Linked DNA regions of Homo sapiens: region 1 is linked to region 2. The links come from fine-mapping of genetic effects on gene expression. A gene starts in region 2. The other region holds a variant in brackets. All regions are shown on one strand. Distances are from middle to middle.

Region 1 (9,655 bases), 33 kb before region 2:
GCCCTGGTGAGGCAGTCGGAGAAGGCAGAGGTGTCTCATCGATGAAGGTGGTGATCTCCTCCCGGAAGAAGCCAGGACCCCGTGGGGGTCCCCCACCTGACCCCAGAACCCCACTCTCCAAGAATTGGCGAAGGCTGGCCAGCCCCCCACCTTCAGCCTCTTCCTCGTCCTCCTCGTCCTCCAACCTGTGTCTTTGTCCCAGGTACTCAGGAGGACCCCCGAGGGCCCGGCTCTGGGCTGGGAGGACCCGGATGTCATCAGAGGATGACCACTTGTGCAGGAAGGAGCCTGGTTCCCGAGGGGTAGAGAAGATGTTTGTCTCATCATGGGACAGACGCCGGGATAGGGGGACCTGGGAAGAGGAGCGGGTAAGACCTGAAGGTGCTGCAGGGACAGAGGCAGAGGCAGGAACCAAGTGGGGACTCCGGAAGATGGTGCCACCTTCTTAACCTTCAAAACGTTTGCTCCGGTGGGCAAACCTGGCCCCACGAGGTCTGAAGGGATGCCTCTCTTGCTATAGCTTTCTTTCACCCAGCTCTATGGTGCCCTGAAAGCCAGGGCTAGGGAAGAGGGGATTGGGGTGCCTAACAGACACTGGAGAAAAGTGATGAGCGGCACCAAGGGTAGGAGATGTATCCCCCAGTTCCATACCTGTAAGTAGTGGACTCTCTCAAGAGGAGGGAAGAGCATGTGCCTTCCAGGCAGCAGCTTCACCTGGGCGGGGTCCCGGCTCCCTGGTCCTGTGGCTCCGTTAGCATCAAAGCGAACTTTGCAAACTCGGCCCTCTGCATAGTCGTCACAGCCCCCATCTAGGAGAGAAAATGGGCAGAGTGGTTACAGGTAGGGAATGCCTACCGCGGCCTCCCACCACTGCCTTTATAAGCTCCCAGAGACCCCTTTAGTTCCCATTAGCATGTATGTTCCAAGAGGACAGTGAGAGTGGCTAGCATTTGCTGCGTTCAGTGCTAAATCCTGAGTGGAGTGCTTCATACATATAGATGAAGTTATTGAAACAATTGCCTGCACTCCCCCAAGAGCCGTCCCTATAGCTGGGGGGCCTCTCTCGGGAAGCTCAGGTTCCCCATAGTGCCAGAGCTGGGCAGTGTGGGTTTCTGGAGGGGAGCCTAGGCCCAGTGAAGGGAGCCCTGAGTGCTGCGGGAAGCAGTGAGTGGACAGCAGGGTGCCTGCTTAGGGAAAGGGGAGCCCAGGGTGGTGCAGATTCTGTCCAGTAGGGGGCACTCCAGGGCAGCCCATCCTCTGGCTGAGAAGGAGCGGCAGAAAAGGGAATAGACAGATGTCCAGGAAAGCCAAAGCCCAGCCCCTCCTCTGACCGTCATCTCCATCCTCCTCAGACATGATGGCCACGCATTGCTCCCACACTGTGCGCACGTCGGCGCGGTAGCGCTCGCAGGACCAGATGAAGGAGGGCAGCAGCAGCGTCTGTGCCATGGAGCACCACAGCACAGCCAGCACCATCCAGGGGGGCGCCGAGTCCGACTTGAGGGAGAAGAAGCTCACCACCTGGGGAAGGGTGGGAGCGGGCTGGGTCAGGGCCAGAGCTGAGGAGCCCACCTGAACCCCATATCCTAGTGCAGCTGGTGGGCAAGACGTCAGAAGTAATGCCTGATCCCTGTGCTCCAACAGAGGCGAAGCCGGAGGTGGAGATGGAGTGAACAGAGGGAAGGGACTGACTCAGAGGAAGGTCGGGGAGAGTGCTGGAGACAAAGCCCTGCGGTCAGGAGGGAGAGGAACAGAGGTGGACCAGGAACCGTAGAGACAGACAGGAACCCAGGAACAGTGACTAGATGGGGTGGTGGGGTGAGCCCTGTGGGATTTCCAGCCAAGAGTGCTCAGAGACCATGTGGCAGCCCGAGGGAAGGAGGGAATGGAGAGTGGAGCCCAGCGGCTGGATGAGAGGTCTGCGGCTGAACCGTGGAGCTGCAGGATGGATGACGGAGCTGGAGGACAGGTCGTGGAACTGAAGGACGGTGATGGAGCTGAGGAGTGGGAACTGAAGCAGATGCTGGAGCTGGGGTAAACAGGGTAGTGGGAACTAAAAGACAGATGATCAAGATGGGGGCCACAAATGGAGTGGGGGATGGACAGAGGAGAGGAAGATGGATGATGGAACTGGAGGAGAGATGACGGAGCTGCTGTATGGCTGATGAAGTTGGAGGTCAGGTGATGATGCTGGGGCCTGGATATTGGGGAGAACAGGTGGGGAGGACCCCGATCTCACCAAGATGGGCACCCCTGTGAGTGAGTCATAGAGAAAGACGATGGCGCTGACCAAGTTGGTGACCTGCAGGGATGTCTTGGCAGACTCCGAGCCATCCAGCGAGGACCGCCGCTTCCCTCGGGCATCCTCCACCACAATGGCTGGTACCTCAAAAGCTGGCCGGGTACCCAAGGCCCCTGGCCCACCCGCTTTGGTCCCCCCACCACCCCCCACTCTCCGGGCCTGCCGAGCCCTCCGGGGCCGGGCCCACAGTGTCTGGTAGAAGGTGATGGCCACACAGACCAGACCCATGACAATTCCCCCAAGTAGCAAGAGGCTGAAGCAAACGCCAAAGCCGAGGCCGATCTTGGAGACTATGAACTGGCAGCCGCGGGCATAGTAGCGCTCGCCGTTGTTGTGCCAGCCAATGGAGGGCAGTGTGGAGAGGATGAAGCTGACCATCCAGATGCCCATGACGGCATGCAGTGCCTGCTTCTTGGCGTTGCTGAGGCGGTAGTTGACGGGCCAGCGCACCATCCACATGCGATGGTAGGAGAGGGAGGCGACCGTGAAGCAGGTGGCCAGCGCCAGGGTGTAGTAGGTGGACACGAAGACCTTGCAGATACTCTCGTTCCAGTCATAGTCGGAGGAAGCCTGACGACGCAGCTGCACCACGGCAAAGGTGGTGAGGGGCACAGCTGCCATGAGTATGTGTGTGCCCGCTAGGAAGCAGAGCAGCAGCTCCAGTGGCTTGTGCTTCTGCTGCTTGGCCGAGATGCTGAGGATGATCCAGGCATTGGCCAGCAGCGCCAGGAGCCCACAGGCCAGCCAGGACAATGCGTTGGAGCGCAGGGAGGCCTCCTCTGCCCCCGCCCCGCCCCGAGCCATCCTATCCTCAGCCCCCCACCCCCTTGAGCTCTGTGGGGGTGGGGGCTAGGTCTCACCCAGGAGCCCCACTCACAAACACTCCCATGATCCCCACAATCCTCGCCCTGTCAGCAGGCAGGCTGCCCCCAGGCTCACCCCAGTGCTCAGCATTGCATGATGGACCCAGCTGAGGGCAGATGTAGAGGGCAGGGGAGGAGACTGAGGGTCAGCAGAGGCAATCCTCAGCTTTCATACTGGGCGGGGCCTTCCTTAAGCATCCCTGCAATTGATGGGGCAGGCAAGCTGGCTACTTTCCCAACTATGAGGCTGGCTGGGGGGTTCTGGTCCCCATGCTGGGACTTCCAGGTCTCTTTTGCCTCTGGTTCTTGACCAGTCAGGAATCTTCTGGATGCCCCAGGGATTTGGGGGTGGGGCTCAGCCCCCTGGACAGGCTGCAAGGGAAAGATGAGATGTGGGAGGGAGAGGGCAAAGGTAGGGCCTGGGCTGGTCTCCAATCAGCCTCCTGTGCCCCCTTTCTTGAAACTATAGGCATGACTGATTACTAAGGCCCTGAGGGTCATTCAGAACATTCCTTTGCCTTAACTCTGACAGCTAAACACCCCACACAGATGAGAGCCGCACTCTTCCAGACCTCTAGGGAAGAAGGTATTCCCACCTCCCTGTCTCCTTTAGCCCTTCCTCCTCCCGCTGGAACTCCCAGGTTCCTTCTTAGAACATCCCCTGCTCAGCACTACTCCACCCCTATCTTCAAGTCCCTAAATGTCTCTTCAGAACTACTGATGGGAGACACAAGACTGGTTTCCTCTTGAGGGTTCACAGTGAACTGGGATATGGCATCACAGCCTTCCTCCCCTACCTGCCGGTCTCCTGGATGCAGGGGTCTTGGTGCTTAGCCCCTACTTCCCCAAACCTGGGTGATCACCCTCCAGCTACCCATATCTGGGAAAATGGGAGAAAGGAGTCTGGGACCGAAGGGGGTGCTAGGGAACCTGAAGGCGGGGAAACCGCTGACATCAGAAGCATCCAGAAATGGAAAG[AG/G]GGGGAACTAGGGAGAAGGAGGAGAGTTTGAGCAGAAGAGAAAGAGGGGGCAAAGTGGTAGTATCTGAAAATAGCAGGAAAAGCTCAAACCCCCTGGAGAGGAGGCTTTGGAGGGAGGAGGGACTGGAGGAGGGAGGGAGGGAGGGAGCAGGGAATAGGAGGCTGAGAAGAAAAGCCAAATGTTCAATAAGGTGCTGACTCCCCGTGGGGAGACCTTGACTCTTCCTCCCTGGCCCAGAGCCTCAGTTTCCCTCTCATGGGAGGAAGGATGGTCCCAGTTTTAGTGCGTGATGCTGAGCTTCAGTGAGCCCTGGGAAGGGGGGTAAGGGAATCGGGTGAAACCCTGAACAGAGTGGGGCTGTAAGGAAGCACATAATGGCTTTAGGGTAAGTGGGGTAAAAATGGGGCACAGCAGTGAAAGGGTCTGTTTCCCATGGAAGCAGCTCAGACCCTTGCTTTCCCCAAGAGGTCCTGGTCCACCCCCACCCTTGGCTTCCCTCCGGAGCCCAGTACACCCTAGTTGCCATGGCAATGGCCAGCCAGAGGGAGGTGGAGGGACTTGGCCAAGAGCAGCCCCCAGTGTCCTCTCCTACAGCCCTGGACCCCTTCCCACCCACCTCCACCCAGGCCCAGCTGGTGGGCTCAGGATGAAAGAGATAGGGAGTCAGAGAGGGAAGGAGGCAGGAAAGATGTGAAGGACAGAGAGAGGGAGGTGAAGGACAGGGAGAGATCAGAGGAAGGTGGGAAGGGGGATCTGGGAGGTTCCCTGGCCGACGGGGTCCCTCGCCCTTTGGGGTGAAGGGGTAAGGTCAGGCGGCTCCTCCCTCCTGTCCCCCTCCAGGTTCTCCAGGGCAGAAACAGCAGGTGGCTGGGGAGGAGGGGCCGGCCTAGGGGAGAGGAGGCAGCTTGAGGGGGAAAGGGAGGCAACACAGGGGACGGGGCAGGCAGGGGTCGTCTTACCTCTCTCCGGCTGCGCCCAGCACTGCCATGGAGACCGCACTCCCGACGCGGCTCTCTCGGGCTCCCGCTGCCTGCCGGCTCCAGCTCGCCCGCCCTCCTCCCTCCTTCCCTCTCTCCCTCCCTCCCTTCCCCCGGGCCTCCCTCCTCCCCCTCAGTCCCGGCCTCCCAGGCTCAGCCCACGGCTCACTCGGTCTCTGCCCCTCTCACTCTCCAGGACCCTCTCTCCCGGGGTCGTCCTGCCAGTGAGCCCAGGCCAGAGGGAAGGCAGGACAGCTTTGTGGGGGGCGGGGGGGGGCGGGAAACGAGTGCAGGGTGGGGAACTGGACGGTGGTGACTCGGGGAGGAGGGGCAAGGAAGGCGCTGAGAGGGAGGGCGGTGAGGAGGATGGCTGGGAACCGGCTTCATTGGTGAAATGGTTCATGTCCTGCCCCCACCCCTTCCCGTTTTCAACACGAACACAAGCTCCAAGAGGCAGCTGGTGTTGTTGGGGACTGAGGAGCTAGCTGTTCGGGGAGGAGGAAGCGTGTGTCACTGTGTGTATCTGTGTGAGGGCTGGGCCTTGGGTTTGGGAGTGAGGGGGCTTGTGGTGCACACTGGGGCTGCTTGTGGAGTTGGGGGTGGTTGTGCACAAGCTAAAAGGATGTGGGCGCATGCATGCACACAGACACACACACTCTGCCTCCTCCTCCTGGAACACAAACACATATGTTGGGGATACAATTTGCACACACATGTTACAGTTTCTCATAGTCCTTTTTCTCTGCCACACACATACACCAGGAGAGCTCACACAACCCTGAGTCTCTCCCCCACGGTATATCACACACATGTAATTACAGAGTCTCAGCCTCACACACACACAGGCCCACACAGAGCCCTGTGGGTTGTGGAGGTGGGTAGCCAGCCTCCACAGAATTTTTCCCTCTCCAGGGAAACTTCATCTCCTTCCTGGGGCACGCCCAGCAACCTCTCCTCTGGGTCCGACCCCAAAGACCAGAAGATTCCTGGTCCCCAGAGAAGGGGTCTCTCTCTCTCTCTCTCTCTCACACACACACACACACACACACACACACACACACACACACGAAGAGCATCTTTATAGTAAGTTTATTGTATTTTTATTTCAGCTCAGGGGAGCAGGGGTGGAGAGTGGGCACAAATGCAAAGTAAGCAAATGGGGAGCCCCAGCAGCAATAGGGGGGTCTTCCTGGAAGAGGCAGGCTTTAAAGACAGGAGGAGAAGGAAATAGGGAAAAGGAGTTGGGACTGAGGGAAGTGGTGAGGAAGGGTAGGAAGAGAGGGGATCCTGAGAGAAGTGGATCAAGAAGATTTGTAACCCTGATTTCCCTGTGTCCTGAATGGTCTGGAGGAGGGTAAGGGAGGGTGTGGGGCAGGCGCAGAGCCTGGCACAATCACCTTTGAGGTCCCTTAGAGGGTTCCCTCTCAGGCTAGCTACCCCCTCTCCCAGCAAAGCTCGCTTCCAGGAGGTTCTGCACAGGGTCAGTGACTGGTCACTGGGCATTCTCTCCTGCAGTGCCTGTGCTCCCAGCTTGCGCTCTGATTAGAAGAGCCAAAGGCTTTGTCCTCTGGTAACAGATTCTGCCACCAGCGGGGGATGAAGGAGGGATTTTAGACAGGGAGGCCTTCATCCCTGCTCGTAAATTCTCTGAGATGGACCCTTCCCATGGGTGCTGTGCTTCTGTGAACCCAAAAGTACACATTGAGTACCCACCACTAGCCACTGGTGAGAGCCGTGTGGCATTTGTCCCTGCATTCAAGAGGCAGCAGTGGAACTTGGGACAAGGGACCTGGGTTAGTCCCGACTCCAGCACTTGCTAGTCCGGCACTTGGTAATCAATCATCTAGCCTCTCTGAGCTCTGGTTCTGGTCTATAAACTGGAGATGATCATCTTAGTTCTGTCACTGCCAGCCTTGTAGGATTTTTCTAAGTCTCAAATAGACAGAGGATGTGAGACATCCCTTGAGGCCGTGTACATGGGGCTGTGTCCAGAGGGGCTGTTTGTGCAAGGTCAGGATGTGAGTCTGTGGTCCCACCCACATAGGGTGAGAAGCGGGCAGCATGGGGCAGGAGGTACTGGCTGCCAGAAACCTCTGGATCTGCATCCATCCTTGACTGGCTTGGCTGTGTGATTTTGTGCAAGTTCCTGCCCTCTGTGGTCCCAGGGTCCTGTCTTGTAAAAGAACAGTCCCATGCTCCATGCTTCCAGACACCCAGCCTCACCCTCCATGCCAGCCAGGGCTGGCCCTGAACACTCCCCTGGGATCCAAATGAGCAGTGGGGAGAGGGTCAGAGAGAAATAATGAGAGAAGGGCTAGGCTTGAAGGAAAAGGAAATGGCGTGGAGGACGGTGTGATTAAGCCTCTGGAAACTAGAGAGCAACACTCAACCAGTGAAGCCGGGGCCTAACCCAGGAGAAACAATGGCAAATTGTAGAGGAGGCGAACAGGAGGCCAGAGGCTGGGGATCTGCTACATTCATCTGGTCCGCAGGCAGGAAACGCGGGGCAGACACCTGGGGAGGCTGCAAGTGGGATCTGCCTGGCCTCGTGCCTCAAATGGGGCTACATGTCTTCTGAAACCGGCTGCAGGAACAAAGAAGAAGGGGAGCAGGTCTGTCCCCACTGCAACCCCTTTGCGTTCTAGCACCTCCAATGGCCTTTCCAGCGCAGCACAGCTCCAGTGGCTTTCCAGCAGGGCCTTTCCTGGCCTGCTGCTCCTTCAGCTCCATCCTCCCACTTCTGCCTCCTTCTAGCTCCTGGCCATCTTTTCCCACCCCTCTATCCTCTCCACCACACCCCTTTAGCCCCCATCTCCTCACCTCCACCCCTCCCAGCTCTTCCTCCTCAACTCCTTCCTCCTCTCCATCCTCCCTTCCTGCCCCCCTTTGCTCCCCTTCCTCCCCCTCCTCTCTAACTCCCTCCCCCTCCCCCTTTCCCCTCTCTCAACCCCTCCTCCCAGATCCTTACTGAGGACACTGGCAGGTCTTCTTCTCACTGAGGAGTCTCTTGATCTGAGACATCCGCTCTGCTTGGCGCTGTCCAGGGACAAGAAAGGGAGTCACGAGGGTCCCAGGCCTCCAGAAGGGAGGTGCCCCTTGGTGGGGGGAGTGGGGGAAGCTGCGACAGGAGAAGCAGTTACATGGCCCAGGCCATCTATCCTGGAATTAACTCTCTGCTCCTTCCTGTCTCTCCCTTGAGTGGGATCTGGGACAGGGCAGCAAGGGAACTTACGAGTGGGCAGAGGGAGCTGGGCCAAAATCAGTTCCCATATACAGGATCTCCTGGTAGAGGACTCAGGGGTTTGAGGGCCTTGTGGGGACCAGGTGTGGGGTTACTCACCCTTCGGTGCCGGCACCTGACACAGAAGAAGATGCCTAGCCCAATGAAAAGCAGGAGGCCGGCGACGCCCCCCAGCACAATCAGGGCCATTGGCTGCACCGGGGTGGACCATGTGGGCAGAACTGCAAGGGAGAGAAATGTGCTCAATGCACCGCCCTCCTCCACGGGCCAGGGGACTGAGGACTGCCCTGCAATCCCTCCTGGCCAGTCTCTGGTTTGACCCTGGGGTTGGGGGAGAGGGGAGGGGTGCCTGGGGGCTCTCAAAGGCCGCCAGTGCTGGGGAATCGGTTTTATGTTTGGGCATATCCATATCCAGGGCACTCTGGAGAGAGAGAAGCTGTGGTCTGGCTCCTGGGCTGTGTGTGTGAGTGCATGTGTGTGTGCATGTGTGAGTGTGTGCATGTGTGTGCGTGTGTGAATGGTGTGAATGTGTGTGTGTGCGCGCGTGTGCGCGTGTGAGTCCATGTGTGAATGTGTGTGCGTGTGTGCATGTGTGTGAATGTGTGCCTGTGTGCGTGTATGAATGTGTGTGCGTGACTGCATGCATGTGCGCGCGCGTGTGTGCACATGTGTGAATAATGCGTGTGCGGATGTGAGTGTATAAGTGTGTGAGTGTACGTGTACGACAGTGTGTGGGTGAGAGTATGTGCGTGAATGTGTAAGTGTGTGTGTGCATGCATGTGTGAGTACATGTGTGTGTATGAGTGTGTGACAGTGTGTGAGTGCATGGGTGTGAGTACATGGGGTGAGAGTGTGGGTGTGAGTGTGGATGTGTGTGTAGTGTGTGTATGAGTGTGTGCGAGTGTGTGAGTGATGTGTGTGCGTGTGTGAGAGTGTATGGGAGTGTGTGCATGTGTGTGAGAGTGTATGTGTGTGAGTGTGTGTGTAAGTGCGTCTGGATTTGGAGAAAAGCCAGGAGCCAGGGAGGGGGGCTCTCGGTCAGGTGGACCCCATCCCTAGGCTGTAGACCTGAGGGAGTGGGAACTTGTAGAATTACAACTGGCAGCCTAGAGCCCAGGACCACAACCCACCTCACTTCATCACTTCTATGCCTCCTTTTGGGGCCTCCAAAGCACCCTGGGACCACAGAGGACACCATACCCATAACCCCCCAACTCAGGCATTGGGAGGCCGGGACTCTGGGTGGTCTCTGCCAACCACAGGAAGGTCCCGCAGCCCAGGAGGCAGAGGCC
Region 2 (9,655 bases):
AATTAGCCAGGAGTGGTGGTGGGTAGTCCCAGCTACTGAGGAGGCTGAGGTAGGAGAATCGCTTGAACCCGGGAGGCGGAGGTTGCAGTGAGCCGAGATCGTGCCACTGCACTCCAGCCTGGGTGACAGAGTGACTCTGTCTCAAAAAAAAAAAAAGATAGATAGATCAATAGATAAGATAGATACATAAAGATAGATAGACAGATATAGATAGATTAGATAGATAGGTGATAGATAGATAGATAGATAGATAGATAGATAGATATAGATAGATAGAAGCCGGGTGTCGTGTGTGGTGGCTCATACCTATAATCCAGCACCTTGGGAGGCCGAGGCAGGCAGATCACTTGAGGCCAGGAGTTTGAGACCAGCCTGGCCAACATCATGAAACCCCCGTGTCTACTAAAAATACAAAAAAATTAGCTGGGGATGGTGGCGGGCGCCTGTAATCTCAGCTACTTGGGATTACTTGTAGTGCCACTGCACTACAGCCTGGGCGACAGAGTGAGATTTTGTCTCAAAAAAAAAAAAGATAGATAGATAGATAGATAGATAGATAGATAGATAGATAGATAGATAGATAGATGATAGATAGATACAATTTTGTTTAAACCGGGGAAGTAGGAAGAAAAGAGGTCAGGAAGGAGGTTTCTGAAAAAGGAGGAAGGGAGACTAGCCACCAGTGATGGTGAAGTGTTTACAGGTTAGCATGCAGATGGGAGGCATCTAGGGGAAGGCTGCAGTGAGAAGAGTAGAATAGGAGTAGCCTCATACCAAAGAGTGGTTCCCACTGTCCCCCATCCCAGACTGACTGGGTCCTTGGTGAGCAGGGGATGAAAGAGGGGAAGTCTCCATAAACGATATCCCTTCTCTGGGGTCCAAATTCAGCTTACCCTGATAAGATGCCTGGGGAAGACTAGAGGCATTCTTGACCCTTCCCCATATGGTGGCTGTTTTGACTCCCCCAGCTCCATGGTCCTGAGGTATGTGCAGACAGCCACCTCCCTGCCTCCAGCTCCCTGTTCTGCCTCATCTCACCCCAAGGCTCTGCTAAGTGGAGGAGGCTGTGGGTTTCCAGCATGCTTGCTTTGGTGCTTTGGGCTTCCGCTGCCACCCCAGAGATCTGGCCTTTGATTCCCATACTCAGCGTCCCCAGAGGTGTCTTACCCTAGTACGGTAGCATCCTGTATACCAGCACTCCGAGAGAGGCTGGGAGGGCTCTCTGGTCCCTCAAGCCCTGGCACGTCTCTCTCTCTCTTTCTGTCTCTCTCTCTCCCTCCTTGCTTCTCAGCTCACATCTGTGCATTTCTGTATCTATGCTTCCCAGCCCCCAGCTTATGCCCCCAGCCTGCAGCTCCCTGTGTCTGTGTCTGTCTTCCTCTTTGCCTCATATACCAGGCGGCCGTGCTGGCTCTCCCGGGCTCCCCTGGAATGCCCCTTGCCTCTTCTCCTTTTTCAGCTTCCCCTCTCAGGCTGCCACTAAGCTCTAGCTCCTTCCGGTCTGTACACAGTCCTCCTGGCCTTTGGCAGCAATGCAGACCCTGGACAAGCTTTGATCTGTGGGGAGCCTGCCGAGCACGCCTGCAGCCCAGGGTGGATGTGAGGGAGCCGGCTGCAGGGTGGGAGGGACACATGGACAAAGGGAAATGGACAGAGTTCCCCAGAATGCACAGAGCCTCAAGGGAGGAGGGGAGGGAAAGATGTGGGAGAGAGAGACCTGGAGCAGCTTGTTAAAGCAACAGCTATGCACACACAATCCACAATCACACACAAAGCGCAGGGTAGTACAAAAAAAGAGGAAAAGAAGAAATTCTGAGAAGCAAGACAGATGCACAGAGCATAGATCCAAAGTGAGGCAAAGAGAGACTGAGAAAGAGAAGAGACCAAAATGGCAACACACACCACGCACTTTCTCAGAGCCTTGAGGTTCCTGCCGCCCTCACCCCTGGCCCCCAGGGATGGGATGAGGGGCGAGGCTTGGGAGGGTAAGAGGGCCCAGCTCCACCACAGCGAGAGTCTGTGGTCCCACAGGCACTTTTATCTTCTCCCCATAACCCCCAAGCAGCCCACTCAAGCCCAGCCGCGGGATGTGCCCCACCGCGTTCACCCTCTCTACTGCTGACTAGCTTCCTATAAACTTCCTAGAGACTGTGACCCCTCTAAGGAACTCTTGTGGTTGGTGGCTGCAACCTCCGCCATCCTCTTCTTCGCCTCAGACACCCACATCGGGGGAACCGTGCCCACCCTCCTTCCCTCATCCCCTCAAAGGTACAGAACAGAGCTCAAACTCAGAGCCTTGCAAACCCAGACCCCTGCCCACCTACTTCTGATTCCCCACCTTCATCAAAGTTATTTTGAGACAGGGCCTCACTCTCGCCCAGGCTGGAGTGCAGTGGCACAGTCAGGCCTCACTGCAGCCTCCGTCTCCCAGGCTCAAGCAATCCTCCCACCTCAGCTTCCCAAGTAGCTGGAACCACAGGCACACACTACCATGCCCAGCTAACTTTTGTGGGGTTTGTAGAGATGGGGGTTTCACCATGTTGCCCAGGCTGGTCTCAAACTCCCAGGTTCAAGCCATCCTCCTGCCTCGGCCTCTCAAAGGGCTGGGATTACTGGTGTGGGCCACCACGCCCGGCCCATCACAGGTATTTCATTCAACAAACATTTATTGAGTGTCTAAAATGTGCAAGACTGGCCCAGTATGGTGGCTCACGTCTGTAATGCCAGCACTTTGGGAGGCCAAGGCGGGCGGATCATTTGAGGCCAGGAGTTTGAGGCCAGCCTGTCCAACATAGTGAAACCTGGTCTCTACTAAAAATACAAAAAGTAGCCGGGCGTGGTGTTGGGCTCCTGTAATCCCAGCTACTCAAGAGGCTGAGGCAGGAGAATCGCTTGAACCCAGGAGGTGGAGGCTGCAGTGAGTGGAGATCACGTCATTGCACTCCAGCCTGGGCAAGAGAGCGAGACTCCGTCTCAAAAATAATAATAAAAAATAAAACGTGCAAGACAATTGGTCTAGCCAATTGCCCTCAGCACCACCCCGCCATTACGGCCAGGGTCAGAGCCTAGGGCTGCCCCCAAGCTCTGTCTAGCACCAGTGGTGGGAGGAGTTTTTATCTAGATATAGACCTCTCCTATGTAAGTGCTCCCACATTGAAAGAGGGAAATCATCTCCCGAGTGTCTCTAACGCTGTCCTCAGGGGCTCTTTCATCTGACTTTGAGGGCGGCGGCCATTTTGTATCAGCCTACAGCATCTGATACAGCACAAGGAATTATTGGTCAAAATGTGAAGTAGCAGTGACTTCCCCCATCAGGCCCTGCTCTTAGCCTTGCCCCGATAAAAATGTCCACCACAAGAGCAGGGCATTCAGGAAGCACTATCCCACTCAGAGTGAAATCTTTGAATTATTGAGAACAGGGCCTTTCCGTTTTGAGGGATCAGAACGTACCCCAGGAAACCTCTCTCCCAGAAGAAGCCTATGAGGGGAAAGCAGAGGACACTGGGGATAGCACGGCTTCAAGGCCATGAGGTCTCAGGGGCTGGAAAGGTCTGAGGGCGGAAAGGCTGAGATGGCACAGGGCTTCCCTTCAGGAGGGACAGTGAGTCCTCACTCTCCCTCACACCCTGCCAGGCCCAGGAGGGGCTGCACATCCTTCTGTAACTCTCCCGGCCTCATGAGACCCCTACCACCAATTCTTTTCGAATCCGTTTCTTAAATGACATATTTATCTAAAGATATGTATCTGCAACTTTTAGGGCAATTCATACGCAAAAGCTCAGTTTCAACACTTTCTGAGAATTTTAGCTTTCCTATTTCATGAATCATTTTAAAGCTAACTAGAGTAGAAGTGCCTTTAGACATTGTTCAAAAATCTTAAAAGAGCAAAGAAGCAGACAAAAATTTAAAAATACACACAGAAACACAAAAGGTAGTTAAAAGAGACTATTACATAGATCATGCGACTTATGAAATGCTGCAAGTATGATATTTGGTGTCAATTTTTGGAGATTGTCCCGTTAAGGAAAATTGGTTTTGCAAGAATTTTCTCTAGACTAGATTCCACTTCTTTTGCTCTTTTTCTTGTTTTTATGTTTTTCCTCATCATTTCTTTTTTATAGGTTTCCTCCCACCTTATATTTATTTATTCTTTCTAATTTTTTCCCTCCCCTTCTTCACTCTTTTTCTCCTCTTTTCCCCTCTTCCAGTCTTCTCCCCTCAACTGCCCACGACTAGTTGCCTTCCACGCCTTTCCCAGCCTGGGATAGTCTCCAGTCTTCACTCCCTCTCTGATCTTGCTATTTAGGTCACTACTCCTCTAAGGAGCACCCATTGCTCTGGACACTGAGCTGTGCACGCTGGGGCTGCAGAGAGGAGTCTAGCACAGTCTCTGACCTCTGGAAGCTCACAGTTCCAGTGGGAAATCGCTGCTCATGACCAGTTCCAAGAGAAATGCAAGAGAAGGTGGCCAGAGCTGTGGGCAGACAACTGGGCAGAGCACATTCCTGTGCATCTGCCCCACGTTCCCCTCCCTCTCAGCTCCGGGGAAGGAAGCCGAGTCTGACCACCTTACCTCTGGGCTTGCGTCTTTCTTGCCCGCTGCTTCTCAAACAGGCGTATCTGTGTGAGGACTTGGAGCTCTGCAACCAGGAGCCCAGTGGGGAGGGTGCTTTGTTCCTTCTGCAGAGTCGTGCTTAAATGAAGAGAGACAGGAAGCCCGATGGCAAGGCTCCTCCACACCCTAGGCCTGGGCCGGCCCCAAACGTCACCAGCTGGAGCTGGGTTCCCCACCCCCCAGGCTCTCAGGGAACATGTCAAAGTGAAAATGCCAAAGTCAAGGGAAAAAGTTAAGCAGAATCAGGCTTAAATCAGGAGTCAAACTGTCACTGCCACTGTTAAGCGGCAAGAAAAAGATGGCAAGAAAGATTCCATTAGTGGTAGCGCCATGTCTGACCAGGCTGTGGGGAAAGAAGTGGGAGGCAGTTGGGGGCATATGGGAACAGCAGTGGTAAGCCCACAAACAGCTCCTTGCTCTGGGGCCCTGAGGGCATGTGTCCAGTGGGTGCCCCAGGGGTATCTGTGGAGGCTTTATAGGTGGCCCAGTGTGGAAGAGAGGGCGTGGGCTGAGCAGAGAATATCTGAGACACCAGGAGTGACTGTTAACCAGGCTCTGTTCCTCTAGGCGTCTCTGGCCAGGCCTCAGGTGCTTTCCTCTAGCCCGAATCTACCATGAACTCTCTATGTGAGTATCCGTCTGCCCATTGGACATCTCCACTGGGAAGCTCACCGGACATAGCAAACTCAACACACATCCCCAACTATGCATACCACCTGCATACTACCACCCTCCAAACCTGCTTCTCCAGGCTTCTCACTCAGTGAGGGGCTCACCATCCACCAACTTGCCCAAGCAAAATAAATTGGGTGTAATCTTTGACACCCCCTTCACCCAACTTCTCCCACGTATTTATTTACCAGTTCCTGTGGATGTTACCTTCTAAATGGCTCCAAAATCTACCCAAGTCACTCTGCACTACCACTACTGCCACCATGCCAATCCAAGATGCCAATATCATCCCTTGCTCGGACAACAGCTCCTGCCTCCTCACTGGTCGCCATTCTCCATACCACAGCCCAAGTGATCATTTAAAGATGCACATGTGAGTGTGCGTTTTCCAGTCTGAAAAAAGTGGGGCTGGGAGTGGTGGCTCATGCCTATAATCCCAGCATTTTAGGAGGCCGAGGTGGGGGGATCGCTTGAGCCCAGGAAGTTGAGGCTGCAGTGAACCGTGATTGCACCACTGCACTCTAGCCTGAGTGACAGAGTGAGAACCTGTCTTGAAAAGAAGAAAAGAAAAGAAAAGAAAAGAAAACTCTAGTTCAGCTTGCGACTCCAACAATTAACACAAGTACCCCTATTTGACAGCATTGTACTTCATCTGTAGCATATAGTACTGTGTGCTACTTCTCATTTCATGACACACCGTACTCAAGGGTTGAGATTTAATAAAATTAGTATTTACTGCTTCATTAAAGGCATTCTATATATATATATATATATATTTTTTTTTTTTTTTTTTTTTGAGAGGGAGTCTCACTCTGTTGCCCAGGCTAGAGTGCAGTGGCGTGATCTTGGCTCACTGCAACCTCTGCCTCCCGGGTTCAAGCAATTCTCCTGCCTCAGCCTCCCAAGTAGCTGGGGCTACAGGCATGCGCCACAATGCCCAGCTAATTTTTGTATCTTTAGTAGAGATGGGGTTTCACCATGTTGCCCAGGATGGTCTTGATCTCTCTTTTTTTTTTTTTTTTTTTTGAGACAGAGTCTTGCTTTGTCATCCAGGCTGAAGTGCAGCAGCATGATTTCGGCTTACTACAACCTCCGCCTCCTGGATTCAAGCCATTCTCCTGCCTCAGCCTCCCGAGTAGCTGGGATTACAGGCACCCGCCAACATGCCTGGCTAATTTTTGTATTTTTGTAGAGACAGGGTTTCACTCGTTGGCCAGGCTGGTCTTGAACTCCTGACCTCAGGTGATCCTGATCTGCCCGCTTCGGCCTCCCAAAGTGCTGGGATTACAGGCACGAGCCACTGCGCCCGGCCTCATTAAGGGCATTCTTAAGTAAAAGTGGCATTAATTTTTTTTCTTTTTTTACTGTAAGTACCTGGCAGTGAAGAATGCAATGACTATCATATGGTTTGGCACCACTGCCTTCATTTATGCTAAGGCAGCAGTTTTATCCAGATTGTTTTTGCAACATTATTGCAATGTCAACATAGTGACAAAGGAAAATAACATCCTGTATTTTTTTATGAAAATAGCTTGACCTTGAAGATCCCCTGAAAGGGTCTCAGGGACTCCCAAGGGTCTGCAGGCCACACTTCACTCTGAGAACCACTGATCTAGGTAATTTTTATTCATTCTTCAGATCTCAGCTATCGCTTTAGCTGTCCCCAAAGTCTATTTTCTCCTTCTTGGTAATAGAACCCTCAATTTTTAGCTGAGCTCTTAGCTACCCAGATTTAAAATATACTTCCCAGCCTCCCTCACAGCTGGATGTGTCCAAGTGACTCAATTTTGGTTAATAGATAGAAGTGAAAGTATTAGGTGCAACCTCAGAGTTGCTCCTCAAAGTGGGGAAAATGTATCCTCCTCAGGCCTTCTTCCTTCAGACTAGAAAGCAAACACCCTCCCTATTGTTCACAGCCAGTCTGCTTTTCTCATTTACATTACCTGGCAGGCTCTGGTAGGCATTGATGTTTTGAGCCCTGCTCCATTCATTCATGTACGTAGTTAAGCGTGTACCAGCCCAAGGCACTCTGCTAGGTAGCTGGGGATGTGATGTTGAAGAAGACAGATATGGTCACCACTCCAGCTTATGACATAGACACTAAACAACGAACAACTTCATTACAATTCGACAAGCGCTACAAAGGAAAAAGCACAAGGTGCTGGGAGATCTTATCACAAAAGAACCTTCTTTCAACTGGGAGAATTGTCTATCGGTAAGCACTGGGTTCTGCTACAAGCAAAAGAAAACCCAAAATAATAGAGGCTTCAACAAGATTGAAGTTATTTTTCACATGTAGGAAGTGTGGAGGTGGGTGGTGCAGAAGAGAGGGAGCAGCACGCCGTCCTCCAGGGCCAAGATTGGGGCTGTTTATATTTTGTTGCTCTACCATTCTCCTGCACAGGACTTCCTCCCCAGAGTCTCAGAGGATACTCAGGTTCCTCAGTTGAAATCAGTTTTCCTTGTGATAAGATCTCCCAGTCCCCTGTGCTTCTCCCTTCGTAGCAATTTTCCAGTTGCAATGAAGTTATTTGCTGCTTAGTGTCTAGCTCACAGGCCAGAGCGGTGACCGTGTCTGTCTTAGTTAGCACTATGTTCCCAGCACCCTCACAGATGCCTTGGCCCTGGAAGACCCTTAATGCTTGTTTAATATTTTCCTAATATATTAAATTTTATTGATATTAAATTTATTGCGGTAAAATACACGCAACATAAGATTTTCCATTTTAAGCTTTTTTTTTTTTTTTTTCCAAGACGGAGTCTTACTCTGTCCCCCAGGCTGGAGTGCAGTGGCACAATCTAGGTTCACTGCAACCTCCACCTCCTGGGTTCAAGCGATTCTCCAGCCTCAGCCTCCCGAGTAGCTGGGACTACAGGTGCCCGCCACCACGCCTGGCTAATTTTTGTATTTTTAGTAAAGACGGGGTTTCACCATGTTGGCCAGGCTGGTCTCGAATTCCTGACCTCAAGTGATCTGCTCACCTTGGCCTCCCAAAGTGTTGGGATTACAGGTGTGAGTCACCACACCCGGCCATTTTAGGCATTTTTTAATGTACTGCTCTGTGGGACTGAGTACACTCACATGGTTGTGTAACCATCTAGAAATTTTTCATCTTCCCCAAATGAAACTCTGTACCCATTAAATACTGACTCCTCATTCTAACTCCCTGCAACTCCTGGCTATTGAATAATATTTTTTTTTCTTTTTTCTTTTCTTTTTTTTTTGGAAACAGAGTCTTGCTCTGTCGCCGAGGCTCGAGTGCAGTGGTGTGATCTCGGCTCACTGCAACCTCCGCCTCCCAGGTTCAAGCGAATCTCCTGCCTCAGACTCCCGAGTATCTGGGATTACAGGCGTGCGCCACCAAGCCTGGCTAATTTTTGTATTTTTAGTACAGACAGGGTTTCACCATGTTGGCCAGGCTGGTCTCGAACTCCTGACCTCAAGTGATTCTCCTGCCTCTGCCTCCCAAAGTGCTGGGATTATAGGCGTGAGCCACTGCACCAGGCCAAATAATTTTTGAATGGATAAATAGAGAAGTATGGACAAGAGCAGGAGAGCAGGGCTACAAATGTAAATGCTTACAGGAGCCCCCTAGGTAGTGCAAATGAGAAAGGTACACTGGTGGTGACCAAAAGGGAAGGGTAGGGACTGGGGGAAACCAGAGAGTACTTGCCTCAGCTAGTTAAGGGCAGCCATTCCCTGCATAGCTGTCTGAGTTGACCGTAGAGGCTATACTGGCATGTGAGCCTAGAGTTGCCTGCTCTGCCAAAATTTCTAGAGAAGGTGAAAACCAGACATTTATGTAATACCTCCTGATTTTAATATTGGTAACAAATTTTTTCAACTTGTCGTGACACTGGGTAGAGCAAACAGAGCATTCCAAGGGCTGGCTCTAGCTTTGGGCCCACCGGTTTGCAGATTCCAGACCCGATGGACGGTGTGAGAACTTGCAGCTCTGTGAGTCTGTGGCCTGGAAGTCAACGGTCCTGAGAACCTGGCTCTCTCTCTGGGGTTTCCAAACAGGAAAAGAAAAAAGGAAGAGAGAGGGTGAGTTTATAGTAAACATTTGGCATTGTTGTGTGCTTTATGTGGTTGTATCTTTTATTTAATCCTCATGAGAGTGATAAGACATAGGTATTATTGTCCAGGCCATACAGATGAGGAAACTGAGGCTTGAAGAGTTTTTTGTTTTCTTAGACAAGGTCTCGTTCTGTCACCCAGGCTGCAGTGCAGTGGCACGGTCACAGCTCACTGCAGCCTCAACCTCCAGGGCTCAATCTATCCTCCCGCCTTAGCCTCTCAAGTAGCTGGAACTACAGGCATGTGCCACTGTACCCAGCTAAATTTTTTTTTCCCCTAGAGATGGG

What was found. PIP is the estimated chance that this variant, and not a neighbour inherited with it, causes the effect.
Region 1: its variant is fine-mapped to the expression of CD4 in whole blood (TOPMed, PIP above 0.99).

The regions. Positions count from the first base shown.
Region 1 is chr12:6,817,350-6,827,004 of GRCh38, reverse strand. CD4 (CD4 molecule) reads right to left here. Exons shown (of 10, transcript NM_000616.5): 8 at 8,463-8,584; 9 at 8,091-8,158; 10 at 6,206-7,706. The coding sequence ends at 7,676. It overlaps GPR162 (G protein-coupled receptor 162), which reads right to left and starts at 5,184. Exons shown (of 5, transcript NM_019858.2): 1 at 5,105-5,184; 2 at 2,240-3,537; 3 at 1,332-1,521; 4 at 652-809; 5 at 1-352. The coding sequence starts at 3,106. RefSeq lists enhancers at 5,201-6,173, 7,144-7,644, 7,645-8,145. The variant AG/G (reference allele first, on the strand shown) is at 4,144.
Region 2 is chr12:6,784,581-6,794,235 of GRCh38, reverse strand. CD4 (CD4 molecule) reads right to left here and starts at 4,708. Exons shown (of 10, transcript NM_000616.5): 1 at 4,574-4,708. RefSeq lists enhancers at 1,637-1,686, 4,802-4,851, 4,667-5,224 and a silencer at 7,159-7,453.